2 linked regions of the Homo sapiens genome follow. The protein of the gene in region 1 interacts with the protein of each later gene in a pairwise test. Each region holds a gene or a part of one and is shown on either strand. Other genes may lie near its edges.

The links. Proteins that work in one complex are often made in the same cells at the same time.
Region 2: the proteins of ORMDL3 (region 1) and C10orf67 interact in binary tests that used the Homo sapiens proteins (3 or more experiments, as listed by UniProt).

The regions. Positions count from the first base shown.
Region 1 is NC_000017.11:39,920,522-39,924,614, forward strand, and holds the end of ORMDL3 (ORM1-like protein 3), read right to left. Parts: intron 3,705-4,093; 5' UTR 3,683-3,704; coding exon 3,509-3,682; intron 2,743-3,508; coding exon 2,591-2,742; intron 2,165-2,590; coding exon 2,029-2,164; 3' UTR 522-2,028; downstream 1-521. UniProt on the Homo sapiens protein: Plays an essential role in the homeostatic regulation of sphingolipid de novo biosynthesis by modulating the activity of the serine palmitoyltransferase (SPT) in response to ceramide levels.
Region 2 is NC_000010.11:23,341,785-23,349,457, forward strand, and holds the start of C10orf67 (uncharacterized protein C10orf67, mitochondrial), read right to left. Parts: upstream 3,014-7,673; 5' UTR 2,994-3,013; coding exon of another isoform or gene 2,991-2,993; coding exon 2,785-2,990; exon of another isoform or gene 2,640-2,784; intron 2,307-2,639; exon of another isoform or gene 2,295-2,306; coding exon of another isoform or gene 2,122-2,294; intron 1-2,121.

The sequences.
Region 1 (4,093 bases):
CTTCCCCTGCCACTCAGGCTTATGGTGGGAGGAGGAAGTATGAAAAGTCCCCTCCACTGAAAGGCCAGAAGGAAACGCAGCGCTCCCAAGGGAGAGGTGACTGGGGAAAGGCCTTGGGGAGAGAAGTGAGAAACTGGAGAAGGGCTGGGGATTCACTGGGAAGGACTGAGCACCACTTGGGACCCTGGCTCCACGTGTAAACCATTGCTGGAGTGTCCCCCTCCTTGGCCATGGCACAGGTCACCCCAGCCTCTGGGGCCAAGGCGCAAGACCTGTCGGAGAACAGCCAGGCAAAAGCACAGAGAATTTTGCTCTCTGACTACCGCTGCCGCCGCCAGTTCCCTCACAGCCCCCTTGGGGGATTTCCCTGCTGAAGCCAGCAGAAAGCCCAGCAGTCCCAGCGCCCCTCCTGCCACCGTCAGAGCTGCACTGATGCCCCACCAGCACCTCAGCGGGAGCCGCTGCCCACACCCCTGCCCCCTCCCCTCAGCCTTCCAGGAAGCGAAGGCCAGACACAGGGAAACAGAAACATGTTGCCCTTTTATTTGCGTTTCTCAGAATACTGTACAAAGGGAGTAAAAATCCTATTCACACTTTGCTTAGAAAGATTTTAAGGTGAAAGTTCCCTATGATACACGGGGTGGGAGATGCAGGGTCAGGAGGGAGAAAACAGGCCCAGTGACCTCTCCCGTTCCCTTGGACCCCTGGAAGAGGACACAGGGACCCACACCTTTTCAAAATTAACACTGCCCCTAGTCCAACTGGGGAGGGGAGAAGGCTCCAGCCCAGGCTCAGGCTCCCGGCCTCACTTTCTTCTCTGCAGGCTGAGACAGTGCCTACAGGCCACGTCTTGCCCCTTCCTCTGTGCTGCTTGAGCAGGGATCCTACAGGACTCTCACCACAGACCCCACATGGGGTGGCCTCACAACGCCACATGTGGCTGCCACATGAGAGGCCCTGCCCAGTGCCAGTCTGTATGAGGAAGTTAAGGGGTGAGGGCCTGCAGAGGACCACAGCACCCATCGTTTCTGTCACAGCTTCCCCATACCCCCGCAGGAGTCAGGGCCAAGTTGGACCTGTGCTTACAATGACTCACGGGCCTTTTCCCCACCTGTCTACCCAACAGCCAACCCAGGAGTTAAACCCACAGCAGCCTCCCTCCCCTATTACTATCACATTCTGTGGGTAAATTAACCCTCCAAGCCTGCTTCCCTCCCTGCCCACATCCCAAAGGAGATTGGGTCTAGCTTCTGTCCCTACCCCTCCCTCCCTTACACCAGTCCTCTGCTGCTATGTGGCCCCATTCTTCTAAGTCTCGACTCACTAGCTCTCCTACAGCTCCCCAACCTCCACCAGGCCAGGATGGCAGCAGCCCTGGCCCCCTCACCTCTGGAACCAAGCCATCTACACTCTACCCCATCTTTCCCCAACCTGACCCTCCCCACTCCCAACCAGGACCCACGGTGGGTTGCAGAGAAGCTGCCAAAAGCCTGGGACTTGGATTAGACAGCTCCCTACCCAGAAAGGCAAAGACCCATCCCACACTTGCTTCCATACACAAAAGCACACACTGCGTGGCATCGAAAAAACCTAGGAATCACAGTGAAACAATCCAGAAGCCGTACCGCCCTCTGCTCCCTATGCAGGGGTTAAAGTGCTTTGGCTGCCTGAGGGCAAACAAGTGAGCAGGGGTTTTTCCCCTGGCCTCCTGTCGCAACTGCGTGGTCCATGTTCAGCCCAGGAGCCCAGCCCATTCCATGACCAACTCCATGGAGTCTCTATTCAAAAAGCAAAAGGAAAAGATCAAAAAATTCAGAAAAGGTCAGAGCCCAGGGGGCCTACCCCAACCCCACTACAAGCTACTCCAAGTTGGCTACTGGGGGAAGCGAGGGGGGAAATTAGGCCAGAGGCTCAACCCCCATCTCTGGCAGTGTCCAGAGGCTTCTTCTTTCTGTCTTCAGTGTTGCAGCACATGCCTTTTACCCTACCCCTCCCCTGCCACCCTGGGCAGGGGAAGGGGCTGCACTCTCAGTACTTATTGATTCCAAAAATCCGGACTCCGTGGAGCTGGGGCAGCTTGGGGATAAGCACGCTCATCAGGGACACGGTGTTGAGCACAAAATGGATCTGGTCGTACTTAGTGTAGAAGCTGGTGAGGAAGTACCTGGGAGGGGAAGGGTGGGGAGAGATATAAAAGACTGTTGGGAGGACCCCTTCCTCCCTCACTTCCTGGGAGGGGAAAGGCAGAATCCCAACAGCTAAGGAGTTACAGAAGAGGTTCCCAGACCAGCGTAAGAAGCAAGAGCTCTCAGGCTAAAGGGGCCCCTCCTGGCCCAGTACCGCCCCCACCTCCCAGCTTCACCCCAAGCCTGTAGGCCTATCTCACTAGCAGGAAGGAAGCTCCAATGGAGGAAAGATGGGGCCAGGGAGGCCCAAAGCCTGAGTCCAGTGTAAGACCCAGGAATATTCCAACTTCCTCTGTTCATCCCTACACCAGGAGCCACGGCAGGGTTAATAAGCATGGCTGGGCCCTGGGGTCCTCCAGGCCTTGCCCTGCCTGCTGGTGTCTTCCTGTAGCCCAGGCACTCACAGCACGATGGGTGTGATGGTCAAGAACTTCCGAGAGGCCGTGAACTGGACCCCATAATCCATCTGCTCCCAGTGGGTTAGCAGCCTCGCCTTGCCCTGGTCCGGGGTCTCAAAGGGTGTCCCCTTCACCGTGTGCAGGAAGATATACATGCCCTGGAGGAAGAAGTCTTTGTTAGAGGATACAAAAGGGAAAGGCCCCCCTGCCCAGCTCCTCCACCCAGTCACAGACACAAGTAACTCCCAGTGATCTGGAGCCTCCCTCTGCTGGGCAGGGGGATATGGGCTGGAGGTCAGGATGGAGCAGCTGGGAGTATGGCAGGAGAAGAACAAGGGGACTCCCTGGGGGACGGGCTAGGCCTGGCATGAGAATGCACGGTGGAAGTTGGCCACAAGATAGGCACCGAGATGCTGCCCCCCTCCAGGCCACTCATAGCCCCCTGTGCCTGTTGGGAGGAGGCAAGCGATGGGACTAAGCCCTGCTTACCCGACAAAGAGTGCAAGGTAGCAAGTGGTGAGGGAGCAGAGAAGGGCAAAAGTGGAAGACGGTTCGAGAAGCTAACTTGAGAAAGGGGCATTTCTGTATCAGCCTAGGCACCAGGACTCTCGGGTCCTGGGAACTCTCTGGAGCCCTTTGTTCAGCTCTCAGGAGCACATCTTCCAGGCCAACAGCCACCCCACCCTAGAGATGTGGAAAAATCTGCAGATTTGATTCCTGTCATGGTACACAGGGCAGGAACCCAGAAGGGGGAGCAAGGCAGAGAGGTAAGGGCTAGGCCTGGGCTCTGGAGGCAGATGTCGTCAGTACATCACCCTGACACCTGGGCCAGGCCCGACAGGCTCCTCCTATCCCTCAGCCCTGCCAAAGGGCAGCCCACAGGGCAGGGGCAGGGGCAGGGGCAGGCAGCAGACAGGCTCTCACCATGTTGTGAATGAGGTTGGTGAGGGTCCAGACGACAGGGACACTCACAAACGGGATGCTCAGCAGCACGATGTGGAGGAGACCGATGGCCAGCACGTAGGAGAGCCAGATGCCACGGCTGTTCATCACCCGCGTGTTGGGGTTCACCTCGCTGTGCGCTGTGCCCACATTCATCCTGCTGCCCCTCTCTGCTGTTCTGCAAACAAGCAGCACAGGTCAGACAGGTCACACTGCTTTCCCTGCCCCCTCTCACCCTCGGATCCCGCTGGGAGGCAGGCCCTTGTTTCCCTGAGAACTCCAGGCAGTTCCACTCTTTTGATTCTGAAGCATGGAAAGTGGAGAAAGTCCATGTGGACTTAGCTCTACTCATTTCCTGCTGCTGGGCTGGGATAAACAACAGGCTGCCCCATGCATCATCCCATTGGGACAGGGCCCTGGCAGGGCATCGGAGGACAGGTCATCAAGAGGCACGCAGCCCCAGGGCAGAGAAGTCAAGGCCCATCCCCCAGCCTCACCCCCTATGGCACTCCCATGAGGACCCTCTGCCGACAAAGCCCCAGGGAGAGAATTCTCACTCAGCACAAC
Region 2 (7,673 bases), on another chromosome or scaffold:
CTGATAGATCCTTAGGGCTCCCCCCTCAAGCCTGCAAGTCTTCACCCCAGTGTCATTTTCTCAGTGAAGCCTTCCCTGATCACCATTTCTAAAATCTGCAGTCCAGGCCGGGTATGGTGGCTCATGCCTGTAATCCCAGTACTTTGGGAGGCCGAGGCTGGAGGACTGCTTGAGCCCAGGAGTTTGAGACCAGCCTGGGCAACACAGCAAGACCCTGTATTAAAAATAAATTAGCCAGGCAGGCTGGGGTGTGCTTGTCGTCTCAGCTACTCAGGAGGCTGAGGTGGAGGGATCGCTTGACTCCAGGAGTTCAAGGCTGCACTGAGCCATGATTGTGCCACTACACTCCAGCCTGGGTGACAGAGTGAGACCCTGACTCTAAAAAACAAAACAAAACAAAACAAAAATTAAATCACAGCTCCCTCCCCACTTGCCACACACACACACACACACACACTCTCACACACTTACTCACTTTCCTCTTCTCCCTCCCCATGTTCGGTTTCTTCCTTATCACTAACCACTATCTAACTTATTACATAGTTTACTTGTTTATCTAGTTCATCATCAATTCCTGACTAGGATGCAAACTCCACAAAGGCCGGGCTTTCGTCTGCTTTGTGGACCACGTTCAGCACCTGAGCCTCTCTCATTCACACCCAGGCACCAGCTCAGTCGCCCTAGTACTTTGGGTGAAGAGGAAGGAATATGGGCATCAGTGGTTCTTTTGTTCAGCCAAAGAGCACCCGGCACCATCGGTCTGCTCTTGAGCCTGGCAAGTGCATTTTTTTTTGGGAGCTACCCCACCATGGAATGCCAAGGAGTCCAGGGCAGGACACCATTCCTATCAGCAAACACTAGAACAGGGTAGACGCTGTGTGCCTCTGGTGTTTATCACGTGCTGCCTCTAATAAATGCTATTCACAACCACCACTAGACCAGGTCCCGTGCACCCTGACCCATTTTAACAAACGTACCCATTGAATACAGTGAAGCTGGGGAAGCCCAGCCCAGGAGCATTGCCTCACTGGGTCAGTCCCACTGCTGGGCTAGGACACCTGTGGTCCCTTCTTCTCACCCTGGAGCTGTGTCTGTGTGAGGGGCTTGCCCCTAAGCCAGCCCACCTGGCACCATGAGGCCCCTGCCTTATACAACGGTAAGTTCTCCCATAGCAGCTAAGCTAATTCTGGCTACCTACTGATTTGAAAAGGTTTTTAGAAAGAAATTTGCATTTTCCCAGAAACATCAGCTCTACATTATCCAAATAAACAACAAAGCTAGAACACAGGGGGCAAAGGATTATGAAAGGGACGGGTTTTAAACAAGGATCAAGGAATAGCAAATAATGACATCGGCAAACACTTCTATGATTCTGCTATGGTCTGAGTGTGTCTCCTGAAAATTCATGTTGAAATCCTAACCCCCAAGATGACGATATTAGCAGGTGTGGACTTTGGAGGTGACTAGGTCATGAAAGTGGAGCCCTATAAATGGGATTAGTGCCCTTCTAAAAGCAGGGTGGGAGCGGGTGTGGGGGACGTGGGGGAAAACTCCCTTGCCCGTTGCACCATGTGGAGACACAGCCAGGAGGTACTGTCTGTGCAGAAGGGACCCTCATCAGACCTGGAATCTGCCAGTGGGCTTCCCAGCCTCCAGAACTGGGAGAAACAAATTCCTGTTGCTTATAAGCCACCCAGCCTATGTTGTTTTGTTACAGCAGCCCGAGGGGACTAAGACGGGTACTGTGTCCTAGATTAGCTCATTTAATATTCACTATGATCTATGAAGCAGGCACTACTCTTCATCATTCATGAACGATTATTTCCCGCTGAGAAAACTGAGGCACAGAGCAGTCAGTCGCCTAACTCACGGCCCCTGTGAGAGGGTCGCCAAGATTCTGGAATCCGGGCAGTCTGGCTCCAGAGTCCGTGCTCTTAGTGTCCAGCTATACACTTGAAGAAGTGAAAACTGCAGCTCTTTTCGGACAGTGATCCCCTCGAAAAACAAACAAAAAACTGAAGCCCAGCGGCTGGAGCAAGGGGCCTGGAAAGGCGTTGAGCGAGGGCCGGGGCGCGAGGGCTCCGGGGCGGGCCGGCGGGGACTGCCTCTCCCGCTGGTCACCTGGGGTTGAACTGGAATTGTTCAATAGAGGCCTCGAGGCCCTCCATGATCTTCCGGCCCTCCTCTGTCTCAGGCGAGTCGCCCCAGTTCGCCATTGCAGCCCCGGACGTGCGCCTCCCGCGGAGCCGCTCGCTCTCCTGAGTCGGAGTCGGGAACCCGGCGTCCGTTGCCATGGCGACTCCCAGGTAACCGGCGAAGCGCGGGAATCCGTGGGCGGGGGCCGGGGAGGGCCGCGAGTGGAGGGGGGTGGGGAACGGGGTGGGGAGGGGAAGGGGGAAGGAGATGGGGAGGAGGGGGATAGGGAGAAGGTTGGGGATGGGGGGGAAGGGGAGAGGGAAAGGAAGTAGAGGAGGTGTGGAGGGAAGGAAGAGGGGGAAGGAGTGGGGGAAGGGGGAAGAGATGGAAAGGAGGATGGGGAGGGAGCACGCGCGGGAGGAGGGGAGTGGAGAGGGGGAGGAGGAGGCGGGGCGGGCTCCCAAGCCACCCCGCTGCGCTTTCACTGTCCCGCCTGCCTCAAGGCTTCCCCACAAGACTCCCACAGCCTGGAGGCTGCTGCGATACCCCAGAGGAAAGCTGCACCCCCGTAAATAACCCTTCAGCCTCCCGCCGTGCCCCTGGACCCTGCTCGCTTCCTCCTCTACCCAGGCGCGGAGCTCAGCCTACCTCGTGGACCCGCGCATTTGCGGGGGCTTGAATTCCCGAGCTTCTCGCTTCCTACGCGCGCAGCAGACCCGCAGCTCGGTGGCCTTGGCTTTCATGGCCTCCCAGCGTGTGCCAAAGGTCCCCCTCAAGGAGGAGGAAAAGCAGTGAACCCATCTAATAACTATGCTCATGACATAATGAGCCCTGCGATCCCGGACCAAGGCCATCATAAGAGGAGAGCAGGCTGCCTAATAAGCTGTCTCCACCTGCCACAAACGTAGGCGTTCCTGGACAAAATATTTCCTTGCAGAGATTAAACAGATTTCTATTTAATGAGGTCAGAATGTGAGGCGTTAAGTCTTAAACTATACCATCTAGTGTGGAATTCAATTTTACCAGGTTTCTACAATAATAAGAGTTAATAGTGAAACTGTTGTCATCCTTAGTTTTAAATTATGTATCACTCATTGTCAACTAATAGGAGACACCTATTCTAATATCAGTATGTCATTGTTTTTCTGTAAACGACTGGCTAAATTTATTTTTAAAATGTCATTGTCTGGTTTAGAACTGTCTATACTACATCTGCATTTCAATATATTATCTACAGAAAAATAAGTTTTTTCTCCTCTCTCTTATTATTATTATTATTATTTTTTGGAGCCGGAGTCTCGCTCTGTCGCCCAGGCTGGGGTGCAGTGGCGCGATCTGGGCTCACTGCAACCTCCGCCTCCCGGGTTCAAGCAATTCTCCTGCTTCAGCCTCCCGAGCAGCTGGGACTACAGGCACACAGCACCAAGCCAGGCTAATTTTTTGTATTTTTAGTAGAGACGGGGTTTCACCGCGTTGTGCAGGCTAGTCTAACTCCTGAGCTCAGGCAATCTGCCCCCCTCGGCCTCCCAAAGTGCTAGATAACAGGCGTGAGCCACAGAGCCCGGCCTCTTCTCTGTCTTGTAACAGTAAGTGAAAATAACTTAGCTGGATTTAGAAGCTCAAAACAGGAAAAGAAAAGCACTGTAGCATTATCACTACTATTATGTTTAAAGACAAAGATTAAAAGCCCCAAATGCCAATAAAACATCATAACCAATGCCAAAATCATCTTCTGTGAAGGCTTATTTTTTGGGGGGGAGATGAAGAGAGAAGAGAAAAAGAGTTACTTTTACTCTTTGGAGGTTTTTAATTACAAACTCTAACTTCAGACTTTATTTGGGGAATTTTTATTATATAATCAAAAGGTATTTTAAAAGAAAGAAATTTATATATCTACAATAACTTTTCTTTTTCCTAAGTGATATTTTACCACAATGTATATACATGTTTTAAAATAAAGATTAAAATTTTAAGTTAAAATTTCAAAACCTATCTGTTTAGAGCTGGGCCAAGACAGTGTAAAGAATGTGACAAGCTGTTGGCTATTTTCCTAGTGCAATTATAAATGAATCGTTTGAAACTGAGGAGAGAGATCGCACAGAAGATTTCATGAGTCATTGGTCAGCTCTGTACAGCATTTGTTGACTGATATAGTCTGCATAGTTACGCCATCCCACAAAAACATGCATTGAACAGAACATCTTTGTTTGAAACCTTGCTATAGCATATCAAGGAGTTTCAGATTTCAGTGTCTAAGAGACCACGCTATGATGATGATTGTTTTTGAAACCGTTAACTACATAATACTTCTCTTCTTGTCAGTTACCTGTATTTTATCTCACAGGTGTTCCGGCTTATAAAATTGTTTATTTCAGATCAGATTCTCACCTGTAGTAACTGGCGTTGATGTGGTCAAAACATTTGTCATATTAAATCCAGGCCTCTTTTATCACATGCTAAATTCATTGATGGCTTTAGTGGAAAGCTCATGAACTCTGCAGTAAATATTAAATATATACAGGCTTTGAAACTTACTCGATTTAGAATTTTGGGCAAGTAAGTTAACATTTCAGAGCCTCTATTTTCTCACAAGTAAAAACTGGATAATGAATGTTTCTCAAAGTTGGGGTAATCTATAAAGCAGAAAAACACGCAGCACATGCATGAGGCAACTGCAAGAGAAATACCAACTAGGCCTTTGAAGGACTCTATTCCTTCTTCCTAAACCACTACTAGGGAAAACATTGTTTAAAGATGTCAGTGTTTTGGCTGGATTCGGTGGCTCATGCCTGTAATCCCAACACTTTGGGAGGCGGAGGCAGGCAGATCACTTGAGGTCAGAAGTTTAAGACCAGCCTGGCTAACATGGTGAAACCCTGTCTCTACTAAAAATACAAAAATTACCTGTGCATGGTAATGCACGCCTGTAATCCCAGCTACTTGGGAGACTGAGGCATGAGAATCACCTGATCCCGGGAGGCAGAGGTTGCAGTGAGCCGAGACTGCACCACTGCACTCCAGCCTGGGCGACAGAGTGAGACCCTGTCTCAAAATAAATAAATAAATAAAGATTTCAATTTTAAAAAATTGAACATTTCATAAGTTAACATTGTTTTTACTTGTTCAGTTAATAGGACTTCAGGCACAATTTTAAAATTTGAAGTGCTTCTCTGACATACCACAGGTATAAATAGAATATGTATTTATATAAAAATATCGCCTACCAGTTATTAAAAGTGATAACATCTCAGATTAACTAGCATGAGAATTTGATTAAGAGTCAAGTGCTGACTCTAAACATAGTAATTTATGTATTCCAGTTGGGTAGTATCAGTTCTATAGTCTAATAAGAGCCAAGAGGTTTCAGTTTAGGTTTGTAATTTAAATTCTTTCTAGAGCGTCATCACATGCGAAGTGCTTATTTTTCTTTTATCACCAGCTATAATATATGATTATGTGGTGGAGGCTCTGTTATGTAAACTTGTTTTATGTCATGCTTCATCCACAACCAAAGTTCTTAAATAAAGTCTTTGGAAGGACATAGTAAGGCTCTTAGCCAGGGCAATATAATGCTACTAAATCCTTTATGGCAAAACTCCTGAGACTAGATCATTTTAATGTCTTAAATTTTGCTGCTGTGAGACAGCATATCCACTCTGTGAAAGTCTATCAATAAGCATTTGTCAGCCGACTAAAGCTGAAAACCAAGATGACAAGCCCAGTAGGGGGTTTGGGGCAGGCGCAACTGTGGATGTGGAATTTGGATCCTTGCCGCCAAATGTCCTTGAGCACTGGAGTAAAGGATTTCCTCTATTTGGAGCTAAGTTTAGATCATCACTGTTTAAAAGAGAGCAGGCCCGCGTGTGGCTCACGCCTGTAATCCCAGCACTTTGGAAGGCCAAGGTGGGCGGAGCCCAGAAGCTAGAGGCCAGCTTGGGCAACATTGAGACTCTGTCTCTACAAAAAATTAAAAAGAGAGAAAGAAATAGTAGTGAACGTGAAGAAAATGGCAGGGGTGGGTTGGGCCTGTAATCCCAGCACTTTGGGAAGCCAAGGTGAGGATTGCTTGAGCTCAGGAGTTCAAGACTAGACTGGGCAACATAGGGAGACCCCATCTCTGCCAAAAAAAAAAAAAAAATTTTTTTTTCAAATTAGCCAAGAACCCAGAGTCCCAGCTACCCAAGAGGGTGCAGCAGGGGGATCACGTGAGCTTGGGAAGTCAAGGATAGAGTGAGCTGTGTTCGTGCCATCATATTGTAGCCTAGATGACAGAGCAAGAGTCCATCTCAAATAAATAAATAAATACATAAATAAATGGTAGGGCTTAGCTGTCTGCAGAAGTGAGCCCACCTGAGAGAGAATTTGTAAACTTACTGCTGAGGGAAGTTTGGGCGATCTCCAGTCTGTTCAAATGACCAGAGTGGATCCTAGTGCCTAGAACATAACCTAGGAAAACTGTCACCCACATATTGGAATTTAGGGTGAGGCGGTTCAGGACAAGTCAAAGTCTGGAGAGTAATACAAGGGCAGTCACCATATTTCATGCCGTCTAAGATTGCATCCTTTAGGATGTGTCTTTATTTTCTGTGCCACTTAGAAAAAAACACTTGCCAACTATGATTATACCTTGACACACCATGGGCTATATGATACACTACAATTTCAAGGATATACCAAAATGATACACCAAAATTTTATGTTAGAAATGTGAAAAACTGTCCAGGCACAGTGGCTCACACTGTAATCCCAGCACTTTGGGAGGCCCAGGTGGGCAGATTACCTGAGGCCAGGAGTTTGAGACCAGCCTGGCCAACATAGCAAAACCCCATCTCTACTAAAAATACAAAAATTATCCAGGTGTGGTGGCATGCACCTGTTATCCCAGCTACTTGGGATGCTGAAGCAGGAGAATCACTTGAACCTGGGAGGCAGAGGTTGCAGTGAGCTGAGATTGCACCACTGCACTCCAGCCTGGGCGACAGAGACTCTGTAGGCAACCCCCCCTCCCCCGTCAAAAAAAAGTGAAAAACTGTATATCTTAGAATCAGTGAATAAGGTAGTTAATAAGAATTTATCAGGCAGAGATCCTTCCTGGGGCCCCATTTAATCAGACCCTAGAAGGATCTACTCTCTTGAGAAGCAGGACATTCGTGAGGTTTTTCCACAATAACTTGGATAAAGTGCCCGTAGGACCATCTGGTTCTCTCTGTTCTTTTTCTAGTGTCACAGGGCAACATGCAAATAACTAATTCATGTTCTTGGGTACATAGATGCCAAGAAAGTCTTGATCTAGACAGCAAATGTGATTTTGGCTAGTGTGAATGTTCCCCTGTAGTCTCACCTGAATAAACTGATAAAATACAGTGTTTAGAGCTGTCTACATGAGGACTAGACTCAGAGTCAAGGCATCCCCACAAGGTACCACCAAGTCACACTTTACCAGGCAGTCAGCATGGCTCTCTTATTAACACTTCTGCATCTGCGATATTAAGCGCCCTTTATCATCCTGCAGCTTCAAACTCTGTCTCAGAAATGTA